Linked DNA regions of Homo sapiens: region 2 is linked to region 1. The links come from fine-mapping of genetic effects on gene expression. A gene starts in region 1. The other region holds a variant in brackets. All regions are shown on one strand. Distances are from middle to middle. Region 1 holds the start of AMN (amnion associated transmembrane protein). Region 2 overlaps TRAF3 (TNF receptor associated factor 3).

What was found. PIP is the estimated chance that this variant, and not a neighbour inherited with it, causes the effect.
Region 2: its variant is the best candidate, but not a certain one, in a credible set for the expression of AMN in lung (TOPMed, PIP 0.51).

What each region holds. Positions count from the first base shown.
Region 1 is chr14:102,920,129-102,925,482 of GRCh38, forward strand. It overlaps AMN (amnion associated transmembrane protein), which reads left to right and starts at 2,535. Exons shown (of 12, transcript NM_030943.4): 1 at 2,535-2,603; 2 at 3,583-3,701; 3 at 3,807-3,851. The coding sequence starts at 2,561. RefSeq lists silencers at 2,759-2,958, 4,122-4,320.
Region 2 is chr14:102,863,884-102,869,258 of GRCh38, forward strand. The region is part of intron 2 of TRAF3 (TNF receptor associated factor 3); the gene reads left to right. It also overlaps the pseudogene RNU6-1316P. Among named protein-coding and RNA genes, the nearest start is that of AMN, 56 kb to the right of the region's middle. The variant G/A (reference allele first, on the strand shown) is at 3,148.

The DNA of each region.
Region 1 (5,354 bases):
ATCCACCATTCATAACGCACCACCCATCTATCCCAATTCACCATCCACCATCACCTTCCATCCATCTACCACTCATTCATTCACCATTCATTTATCCACCGTCCATTCATGCATACATCCACCATCCATCTATCCACCATTCATCCATCCACCATCCACTCCCACTATCCATCCATCCACCATCTATCCATCCACACATTCACCATCCACCCATCCACAACCTACCATCCATTCATCCACCATTCACTCATCCACCATCCATTCTCCACCATCCATCTACCCATCCATCCCTCTACCCATTCACATATCCACCATCCACTCATCCATCATCCACAATTCACTCATCCAGCGTCCATTCATCCATCCACCCATTCACACATCCACCCATCTACCATCCACCATCCCTTCATCCACCATCCACCCATCATTCACTCACCCACCATCCACCATCCATCCATCCACCCATCTATATGTCCATTCACCCATTCGCCATCCACTCATCCACCACCCACCATTCATCTATCATCCCTCATCCACTGTCTACCATCCACCATTCATCCATCCACCCATTCACCCATCCACCATCCATCCATCCACCATCCACTTATCCACAATCTGCCATCCACCATTCGCCATTCATCCATCCATTCATCCACCACCCATCACCATTCACATCCACCATCGGCCATTCACCATCCACCATCCACCATCCACCTATTCACCATCCACCATTCACTCATTCACCACCCATCCTTCCATCCACCCACCATCCACCACCCACCATCCACCAACCACTATTCATCTTACCATCCACCATCCACCATCTATCATCCACTATCTACCATCTGCCGCCCATCCATCCACTTAATATTCACCATCTACTCATCACCATTCACTTGTCCATTATCCACCACCCACCAACCATCATCCACCTACCATCCATCATCCACCATTTATCCATTATCTACTTATCTACCATCCATTACCCATCCATTTATCATCCTATCCACCATCTACTATCCACCCATTATCCACTATCCACTGTCTATTCACTATCCACCATCTATTCACTATCCACCGTCCATCTCCATCCACAATTCACCATTTATGCAACCATCATCCACCATCTATCCATTTACCATCTATCTATTCACCATCCACCATCCATCCATTCAGCATTCATCACTCACCAAACATCCACCATTTAACACCCACTTTTTTTTTTTTGAGATGGGGTTTCACTCTTGTTGCCCAGGCTGGAGCACAGTGGCGTGATCTCCGATCACCACAACCTCCGCCTTCCAGGTTCAAACGATTCTCCTGCCTTAGCCTCCCAAGTAGCTGGGATTACAGGCATGTGCCACCATGCCTATCTAATTTTGTATTTTTAGTAGAGATGGGGTTTCTCCATGTTGGTCAGGCTGGTCTCGAACTCCCGACCTCAGGTGATCTGCCCGCCTTGGCCTCCCAAAGTGCTGCGGTTACAGGCGTGAGCCACCGTGCCCCGCCAACACCCACTCTTTATGATCTACCTGTCGGCCATGTATCCATTTATGCCATTATCCATCCACCACTCCCTGATTACCATCCATTCCTTTTCCTTTTTTTTTTTTTTTTTTTGAGACGGAGTCTCGCTCTGTCGCTCAGGCTGGAGTGCAGCGCACGATCGTGGCTCACTGCAAGCTCCACCTCCTGGGTTCACGCCGTTCTGCCTCAGCCCCCCAAGTAGCTGGGACTACAGGCGCCTTCTACCATGCCCGGTTAATTTTTTTGTATATTTTTAGTATAGACGGGGTTTCACCGCGTTAGCCAGGATGGTCTTGATCTCCTGACCTCGCGATCCGCCTGCCTCACCCTCCCAAAGTGCTGGGATTACAGGCATGAGCCACCACGCCCGGCCATTCATTCATTTTTCACTCACCATCCTCATCCATCCATTCATCACCCATCCACCCTCTATCACTCACCATCCACCCCGTCAACCATTTACCATTCATCTGCCATGCGTCCATATGCCGTACACCATGCACCATCAATGTTGCTGTCCATCAGCTGTCCCCTACTCACCATCCACTACTCTCCACCATCATCCACAATCCACCCTCCTATACCATCCACATACCATGTTCCATCCAGGATCTTCCTTCTATCATCCAACCACCACCCACAGCCCATGGGACAGGGGCACTGCGTGGAGAAGTGGACACCCAGTTCCAATGGTGAGCAGACTAGCTCAGCCCTAGCAGCACACAGGACAGAGAAAGGGGTGAATTCAAAGGTCGTTTATTCCCCCTCCCGGCAAGACACCCATTTTACAGGGTAGGTCAGTCTCGCCAAGCCCTTCTTCTTTGCCCTTCTTCCTGAGAACCTAAGGTGTTCAGGCCCTGCAGGGGCGGGTAAGGGGAGGCTGAGAAGGTGCCTCCCAGGGGCCTGAAGAGTCGGCCCTGGGCGGGTCTGGAGGTAAATGTGTAACCGACCCTGGTGCCCCCACCCGACCTGCCTGGTCACGTGGGTCCAGTGGGGCAAAGTCTCCTGGTGGGGTGCAAGGAGCCGAGGCGAGATGGGCGTCCTGGGCCGGGTCCTGCTGTGGCTGCAGCTCTGCGGTGAGCCGGGACCACACCGGTGCGGGCCCGGACGGTAGCGGTCTGTCAGGACCCAGGGCCGAGGTCGCTCTAGGCCTGGAGGGTGAAGATCTTCCGAGGAGTGGGCAGGGAGGGCTTTGGAGGGTTGGGGGCGTGAAACTCGGCCCTGCCTCCCTCGTCTGGCGAGTGCGCAGCCCGGAAGTGCGCGGCCAGTGCATCGGGCGGTGCGGGAGAGGAGAGGAGGGGCTCCGGGAACCTCGGCCAGCCCCGGCCTCCGGCGGCTCCTGCCCTCGCGGTTTTTCCGTCTGCGAAATGGGCGCGGTCCCCAGAACCTGCCGAGAGCAGCGAGTGTGCGCCTGCGGGGCTCGGCAGACCGCCTCAGCTTCCCGGTCCCCAAGGGAGCACTGAGCCCTCCTCCGCCTTCACACCAGGCCGGCGCGTGTCCCTGGCGCCCCCTTCCCTAAACCCCTCGCGGCTCCCTCAGGACAACCCCACCCACCACATTCAGGGCCGGCCTGACCTGGTCCTGCCGCCCCCAGCCCCTTCTTACTTCTCATACCGGGTTGCGCTCTGTCGCAGCTCTTCCCGGCCCAGGTAGGACTCCTCCGGGAAGCCTTCCTGATTCCAAGGCCGAGAAGAGGTCTGTGCTGCCCCATCCTCCTCCATGCCCCAGTTGTCACTGTCCTTAACAACGCTGTCCTCTGCTCCAGCGCCAGGCAAACTGGGGGCAGTGCCGGGAGGCTATCTAGGCAGGCGTCCTGCAGGGCGCGTTTGAGCGGGCTCTGCAGGTATCAGTAGAAGTCCGTTGGAGAGCGCCCGGGCAGGGCGCCCACAGTCTGGCCGGGAGGGACCAGGGTCTGGGTCCGGGCCCCCGGGGATGGGGTTCCTATGCGTCCCGGGTGATCCGCGCGGACCTTCCGCACTTCTCTGGGTGGGTGGCCTTCCCTGAGAAGGGAGCATCCCGGAGAGCATCCCGGGCACTCAGTCGCCTCCTCCCCAGCACTGACCCAGGCGGTCTCCAAACTCTGGGTCCCCAACACGGACTTCGACGTCGCAGCCAACTGGAGCCAGAACCGGACCCCGTGCGCCGGCGGCGCCGTTGAGTTCCCGGCGGACAAGGTGCCTGGGAGCGCCGGCGGGGTCGGTGATGGGCCTGGACCCCTGAGACCGTGTGGCCCCGGTGGGGGTTGCTCCCGGCTCGGCTGAGGCAGCTTCTTCCTGCAGATGGTGTCAGTCCTGGTGCAAGAAGGTCACGCCGTCTCAGACATGGTAAGGCCGGGCTGCTACTGCCACTGGGCTGGGGGTTCACAGAGTCTCTGAAGCGCCTTCAGGGACTGCTGTGCCTTGAGGGCGGACCCCACCGGCATGGAGGCACTGCAGGACTGGGACTTTGGCCTCTGGAGAATATTCTAGGAGGCAGGGAGTGGGGGGGAACCTAGGGGAGCTTGGTCCCATGGTCCCAGCCAGGCTGTGTCCTGGGAGGGATGGGAGGCACCCCTGTCCCCACAGCCCTTGTGATGCCCAGCAGTGGGTGGTCTTCCCAGGAAGCGCCTGCTCCATGCCCTTCCCCCAAAGCCTTGCCTTGTCCTGGTGCCTAAAGCTCCATCTTTAGAACACTAGGGAAAGTGTCCCCAACACCCCCCCCTCTACCCACCATCCGGGTCCCTGGCCTGTTAGGAAGTGGCCGCCCAGGAAGAGGCGAGCCCACTCCTGCCTGGCTCTGCCTCCCTTCAGATCAGATCAGATTCTCCTAGGGACCCCTATTGTCACTGCGCCAGCGAGGGGCCTGGGTGGGTGTGCACTCCTTAAGTGGCTGACATCTGAGATGGGACAGCTTAATCCTGAAACCTTCCCCACTCCCATCAGTCCATGGAAGAACTGTCTTCCACAAAACTGGTCCCTGGTGCCAAAAAGGTTGGGGACTGCTGCCCTAGGGGACCTTTTTCTCAAACTGCTTCACACAACACTCCAAGAACATGATGGGAACTGGGAGGAAAGCGGGTTCCATGAGTAGGTAAGTTTGGGAAATGCTGCAGCCTGCACTTTCCTGGAGCTTCATCACGTATTAAAGGCTCTGATAAGGCCCCAGAGAAAGAAGCTAATTTCCTTGTTTAAGGTGGAGTTCCGCAAGCTACAGGCCAAATGCAGCCCCTACGGGTGGAGCAAGGAACGGTTTTTACACTTTGTAATCGTTGGGGAAAAAAAGAACAATCTTTTGTGGCACTTGAAAAATATATGACATTCACACCTCAGCGACAGTAAATACAGCTTCACTGGCACACAGCCTGCCCGCTTGGTTGAGTATCCTCGGTGGCCACTGTCCCATTGCATCGGCAGCCCACCAGCTTCCAGGGTGACTGTGGGGCCTGCAGGCCAAGCCTCTGGGCAAAAGCTTCCTTCCAGCCCCTTCACAGCCACTCCTGGGCTGCGTCCTCATCCTGTCACCTGCACACCTGCCAGCTCAGTCACTCCTGAGTGAGGGTCACTGGTGAGCTGGGTCGGGGTGTCGGCTCCAGATGTGGGGTCCAGGCCTGGGGCCCCCGCGTGTGCGGGTGGGGAGGATGGCTCAATGGGCTTGGCCTGGCCCATTCCTGCCCCATGCGGGGTCAGGGACCCTGGGCCTCATTTCCACCCCAGGGCCGCTTGGTTCCTTCCTTCAGGTTTTCCAAAGCTGCCTTAACCCAAAAGCTGCCACACACTGGGGAGGGCACCCACAGCAAGATGGCGACGCTCCCACCCGGGAAACAGGAGGAGGGCAGGGAGAGGGAGGCG
Region 2 (5,375 bases), 56 kb before region 1:
AACAAACAACTGCAGTTCTTTGCCGATGAGGCCCATTCTGCTCCCTCTGGGACCAGTGCATGCACCGGAGTGGCAGCCTCTTGTCTTCTAGGCCACTGCGGCAGCCAGGATGGGACCAGAGAAAGTTAAAATGCCATGGAACTCGCGGTTCTTGCTGAGATTCACCTGGTTTTTCTTGATTAAGCATTCTTCTGATTGCTGCAAGTTTTTAATTAGTTTTCCAAAGTTTTAAAATAGTAGATTCTAACGGTTTTTGCCTTTTTCTTTTTTTTTTTTTTTTTTGGAGACGGATTCTTGCGCTCTCACCCGGGCTGGAGTGCAGTGGCGCCATCACGGCTCACTGCAAGCTCCGCCTCCCAGGTTCACGCCATTCTCCTGCCTCAGCCTCTCTAGTAGCTGGGACTACAGGCACCCGCCACCACGCCCGGCTAATTTTTTGTATTTTTAGTAGAGATGGGGTTTCACCGTGTTAGCCGGGATGGTCTCGATCTCCTGACCTCGTGATCTGCCCACCTCGGCCTCCCAAAGTGCTGGGATTACAGGTGTGAGCCACCGCGCCCGGCCTAGTTTTTGCCAGTTTTTAAAATGTGTATATTGAAGGATGGACTTTGAGTTCCTTACTCAGCCATTTTTGTGGACATGATTTACTAGTCATAATTTAAATTGAATATTTTAGGACATATTAAATTATGATCAGTTTCGAGGTTGCCAAATTTACGTACACCTTACTTGGTTACACAAGAGATTTAAGATGGCTTACAAGGATAAATAGCATAAGAGATGCAATAAATTATCATTGTCAGTATTTGTTGGGTTGAGGGCATGTTAGTAAAAACTGCCCTCCCTGCTGTTAAGAACTTGATCCTACAGACAGAAATGTTTCCTTGGCAGCCTTGAGATTCTTGCCCTCTCTCTGTTACGTCAGTGGTGGGGAACCTGGGGCAGATTCGCCTCCGTGGCTTCTCCTGCATGACTGCGTTGGGCTGAGGGAGATATGCCAGGTTAGTGCCCAGCAGTAGGGATGGTTGTTACTGTCTGCCTCTGAGTTGATTGTGAGAAATGTGTCTCCAGTGTTGGTTTTCCTAAATCTAAAACTCTCCTTTGCTCAGGACAGGACAGGTAAGTGTTTATATCCTATTTGAGGACTTAAGACATCATGTCTATTGTCCTATTTGCTTCAGGAGGTGATCAGGGGATTCTTACACTTCAGATCAGAAGTGACTGCTCTTGGTGGCTGTTGATCACTGGGAGAGTCAAGAGTCATCAGTAAACCTGAGACTTGTCCATCCCCTGGTTCTGGTGCCTGTTGAGGTGTCTGTCTCCTGCTTTCCCAGGAGCCAGTTCAGTCCTGTGGCCACCTCATTGATATAGAAGGTCACGGGGCTGCCGGCTGGGCTCTGCTCAGGGTTCGTGTCATTTCTTTCTTCAGCTTTTGTTTAGAAAGCATATTTTCCTTGAGCAATGTCTGTCAATTTGACATAGTGGCTCATTTACTAGTCTTACTTGAGAACACCTCCTTTTGACATTGCTTCTGTGATAGAATTAGAGCTGCTTTCTGTTTTTATATATTGGATTGTCCCTTTTTCATCAGCATCACTCATAAGTTAATCTGAATTTTTTTTTTTTTTTTTTTTGAGATGGAGTCTCATTCTGTCACCGAGGCTGGAGTGCAGTGGCACGATCTCGGGTCACTGAAACCTCTGCCTCCCAGGTTCAAGCAATTCTCCTGCCTCAGCCTCCCAAGTAGCTGGGACTACAGGCATGTGCCACCATGCCCAACTAATTTTTGTATTTTAGTAGAGACGGGGTTTCACCATGTTGGCCAGGGCTGGTCTTGAACTCCTGACCTCAAGTGATTTAGCCGCCTCAGCCTCCCAAAGTGCTGGGATTACAGGCGTGAGCCACTGTGACTGGCCTAATAAAATTAAGATTTCTCTTCATTAAAAGACACTATAAATAAAGTCAAGCCATAGTGCTGGCTTTGGCAGCACATATACTAAAATTGGAATGATACAGAGAAGATTAGCATGGCCCCTGCACAAGGATGACATGCAAATTCATGAAGCAGTTCCGTATTTTTAAAACACATGCACACATATGTTTATTGCAGCACTATTTACAATAGCAAAGACTTGGAACCAACCCAAATGCCCATCAGTGATAGACTGGATAAAGAAAATGTGGCACATATACACCGTGGAATACTATGCAGCCATAAAAAAGAATGAGTTCATGACCTTTGCAGGGACATGGATGAAGCTGGAAACCATCATTCTCAGCAAACTAACAGAGGAATAGAAAACCAAACACCACATGTTCTCACTCGTAAGTGGGAGTTGAACAGTGAGAACACATGGACACAGGGAGGGGAACATCACACACTGGGGCCTGTCGGAGGGTGGGGATAGCATTAGGAGAAATACCTAATGTAGATGACGGGTTGATGGGTGCAGCAAACCACAACGGCACGTGTATACCCATATAACAAGTCTGCATGTACTGCACATGTATCCTAGAACTTAAAGTATAATAATTTAAAAAAAAGTCAAGCTATAAATAGGGAAAAGACATCTGTAATACATAAAACTAACAAAGGATTAGCTGTTAACATATTAAATAGATGGGGAATCTCCCCAAATCAATATTACGAGACAGGAACCCAATTAAAAAAATGACACCACCAGGCGCAGTGGTTCATGCCTGTAATCCCAGCACTTTGGGAGGCTGATGTGGAAGGATCATTTGAGGCCAGGAGTTTGAGAGCAGACTGGGGAACATAGCGAGACCCCCAGCTCCTGAAAAAATAAAAAAATTAGCTGGGCATGGTGGCATGTGCCTATAATCCTAGCTACTCTGGAGGCTGAGGTGGGAGGATTGCTTGAGCCCAGGGGGTCGAGGCTGCAGTGAGCCATGATGGCACCACTATACTCCAGCCTGGGCAACAGAACGAGACTCCATCTCTTGAAAACACACACACACACACACACACACACACACACACACACACACAAAACAATGACAAGAAGGCACAATTTGGCATTTCACGGAAGAGAAAACAAGTGGCCTCTCAGCATATGAAAAGATGCCAAACCTTTCTAATCAGGATAAGGGGCATAAAGACCATAGTCCTTGGTTGGTAGAAATTAA[G/A]ATGACTGATAACTGTAAGTGTTGGTGAGAGTGTGGTTTCATAGAAATTCTTGTGCTGCTAGTGGAAGTATTTGTTGTTACCTCTGCTTTGGAGAGCAGTTTGGCACTCATTTACAAAACTGGCCTTTCGTACAACCTACACACCAGCGACTCCTCTCTGCTCTTTAGATGTAGAGTCCAGAGCAAGGACTGGTAAACTCTTTCTGTTACGGGCAAGAGAGTAAATATCCTAGGCTTTGTGGACTACATACACACTTAGTCTTTGTTTTTATAACACTTAAAAAATCTAAAAAGCATTCTTAGTTCAAAGACCTTACAAAAATAGGCTGCTGGCTGGATTTGATTTGCAGGCTGTAGTTTGCCAATTCCTGGTTCTCTGATCTAGGGGACGCATCCTGGAGAAACTTAGTTACATGCAGTCTTAGTGGCAGGAGGGCCAGGGGAAAAGCACAGAGCGGTATGGGGGAGTTGAGAGAGACTGGGAGGGTGGCCTCCTGGAGAAGGTCGGGGGCTGGACTGCATGTGTCTGGGTAGGCTCAGCCATGGCCTGGCTGGGTGGGCCTAGGGGAACGTAGAGCTTCTGAGGCACAATAGGCCAGTGTGGAGAGCAGAGTGGCAGGCAGGGCTGGGGGCTGCAGGTCGAGGCTGGTCAACCCTTTTACCTGGCGGGCAAGGCTAGTACCAGGTGCCCTTGCTACTTAGCTTGGAAAGATTAGTGAGCATCATAATGGACCGGCAAGTTTGTAAGCAAATGACATCTATAATACATATACTTTAACATTAATGTTTTGAAAACTTTGTTTTCACAAATAAGTAATTTCCCACATTTTGCCACAGTTATGTTCTATGAAGCTAACCCAAGTGTGGCTAGAACGCCAGTTCATCCATCTCTCAAATTGTCTGCTGCCGGCGTTCATTCCTGTTTGCTTCTAGCTGTAAAGTCAGGCTAGGAGTCTGTCAGCTCATGTGCCTGTCAGCTTCATGCAGGCAGCAAGAACGGGGCTCGGAAGCAAGGGCTCCGCCCGCCCACCCAGCAACTACCTCCCCAGGATGCCCAGGAGCTCAGGGGTGGAAGGAATTTGGCTCTTATTTTTCTAAGTAGCAAAAATAGATGAATTGGGTACAGGAACGCAGTGTATTTTTGAGGGAGCTGGTGAGTTGTGAAAGAAACTTCCTCTGTTCACCTGAGGCTTACCGTATCGTGAGAAAGGATGGAGGAGGCATGGAGGTGGGAAACTCTACACAAGAAAAATCCTATAGTGCAGCAGCTACTGATGTGAGGCGGCTGGTCTAGGCAGCGGTGTTCCCTGAGGCTCCTGAGTCTGGTTCTCACTGGGTCCCTCACCTCCCTTCACAGCCACTCCCTTCCTTACCAAGGTACATGGGAGTACAGGGCTGGCCAGGGGCTGTTGACAGTGGGGGAGTGGTGCAGGCTGAGCCTTAGAGACAGGAAGGGCATCTGTGCTGGAGCTGCCCTGCAGAAGCCTCGTAAAGGTCGTAAGGCACTGGGCAAAAACTTTTCCAAGAAAGTTCATGGTGCACACGCTGACCTAAACACTGGCCGACATTCCCAAGGTTTTTTTCATTATGGAAGTGCATGGCCATTGCATGGTATCCAGAAAACAAAGACCAGAGAAGCCAGACTTTATACCACCATCTGGAAACATTTAATTTGTGCTTTAGGTAAGTGTTAGCAAATATTTAGGATGATTGATCAAATCATTAGTGTGTTTATGAGTGCATGGTGTAATTTTTACTAAAGCTCACATTTCTTCAGGAACTCGATTCAACTCCTTTACATTCCTGGTTATTTTCATTTACTTGATCTTGAGGTCTCATCTGGCAGAGCTGTGCAAGCTGGGACCTTTGTGGCTTATTTTGAGGAGCTGTTTACTTTACCTGTTGATGGGAACTTGCAGGTGGGAGGCAGCCAGTCTTAAAGAGTACCTTGTTAGCAAGTGTGGAAGAGAGTCCGCGCAGACAGACTTGCCCTATGTGGTGTCCCCTCTGCCAGCCCAGCCCTTGGGCACATTGGCACCTACCTGAACCCGAGCCCCCTCATGCACACAGGGAGCCGCACCTCCCTCACACGCTCCTCACCAGTGTGACATGGTGTGACGTGCTCTGTGGGTCCACAACGGGCCCACTCCACAGCTCTGTGCACAGCATGCTGGGTCAGGGTGGTGCTAGATTAATAAGATGAGGGTGAATGTCAAAACTGAGCACTT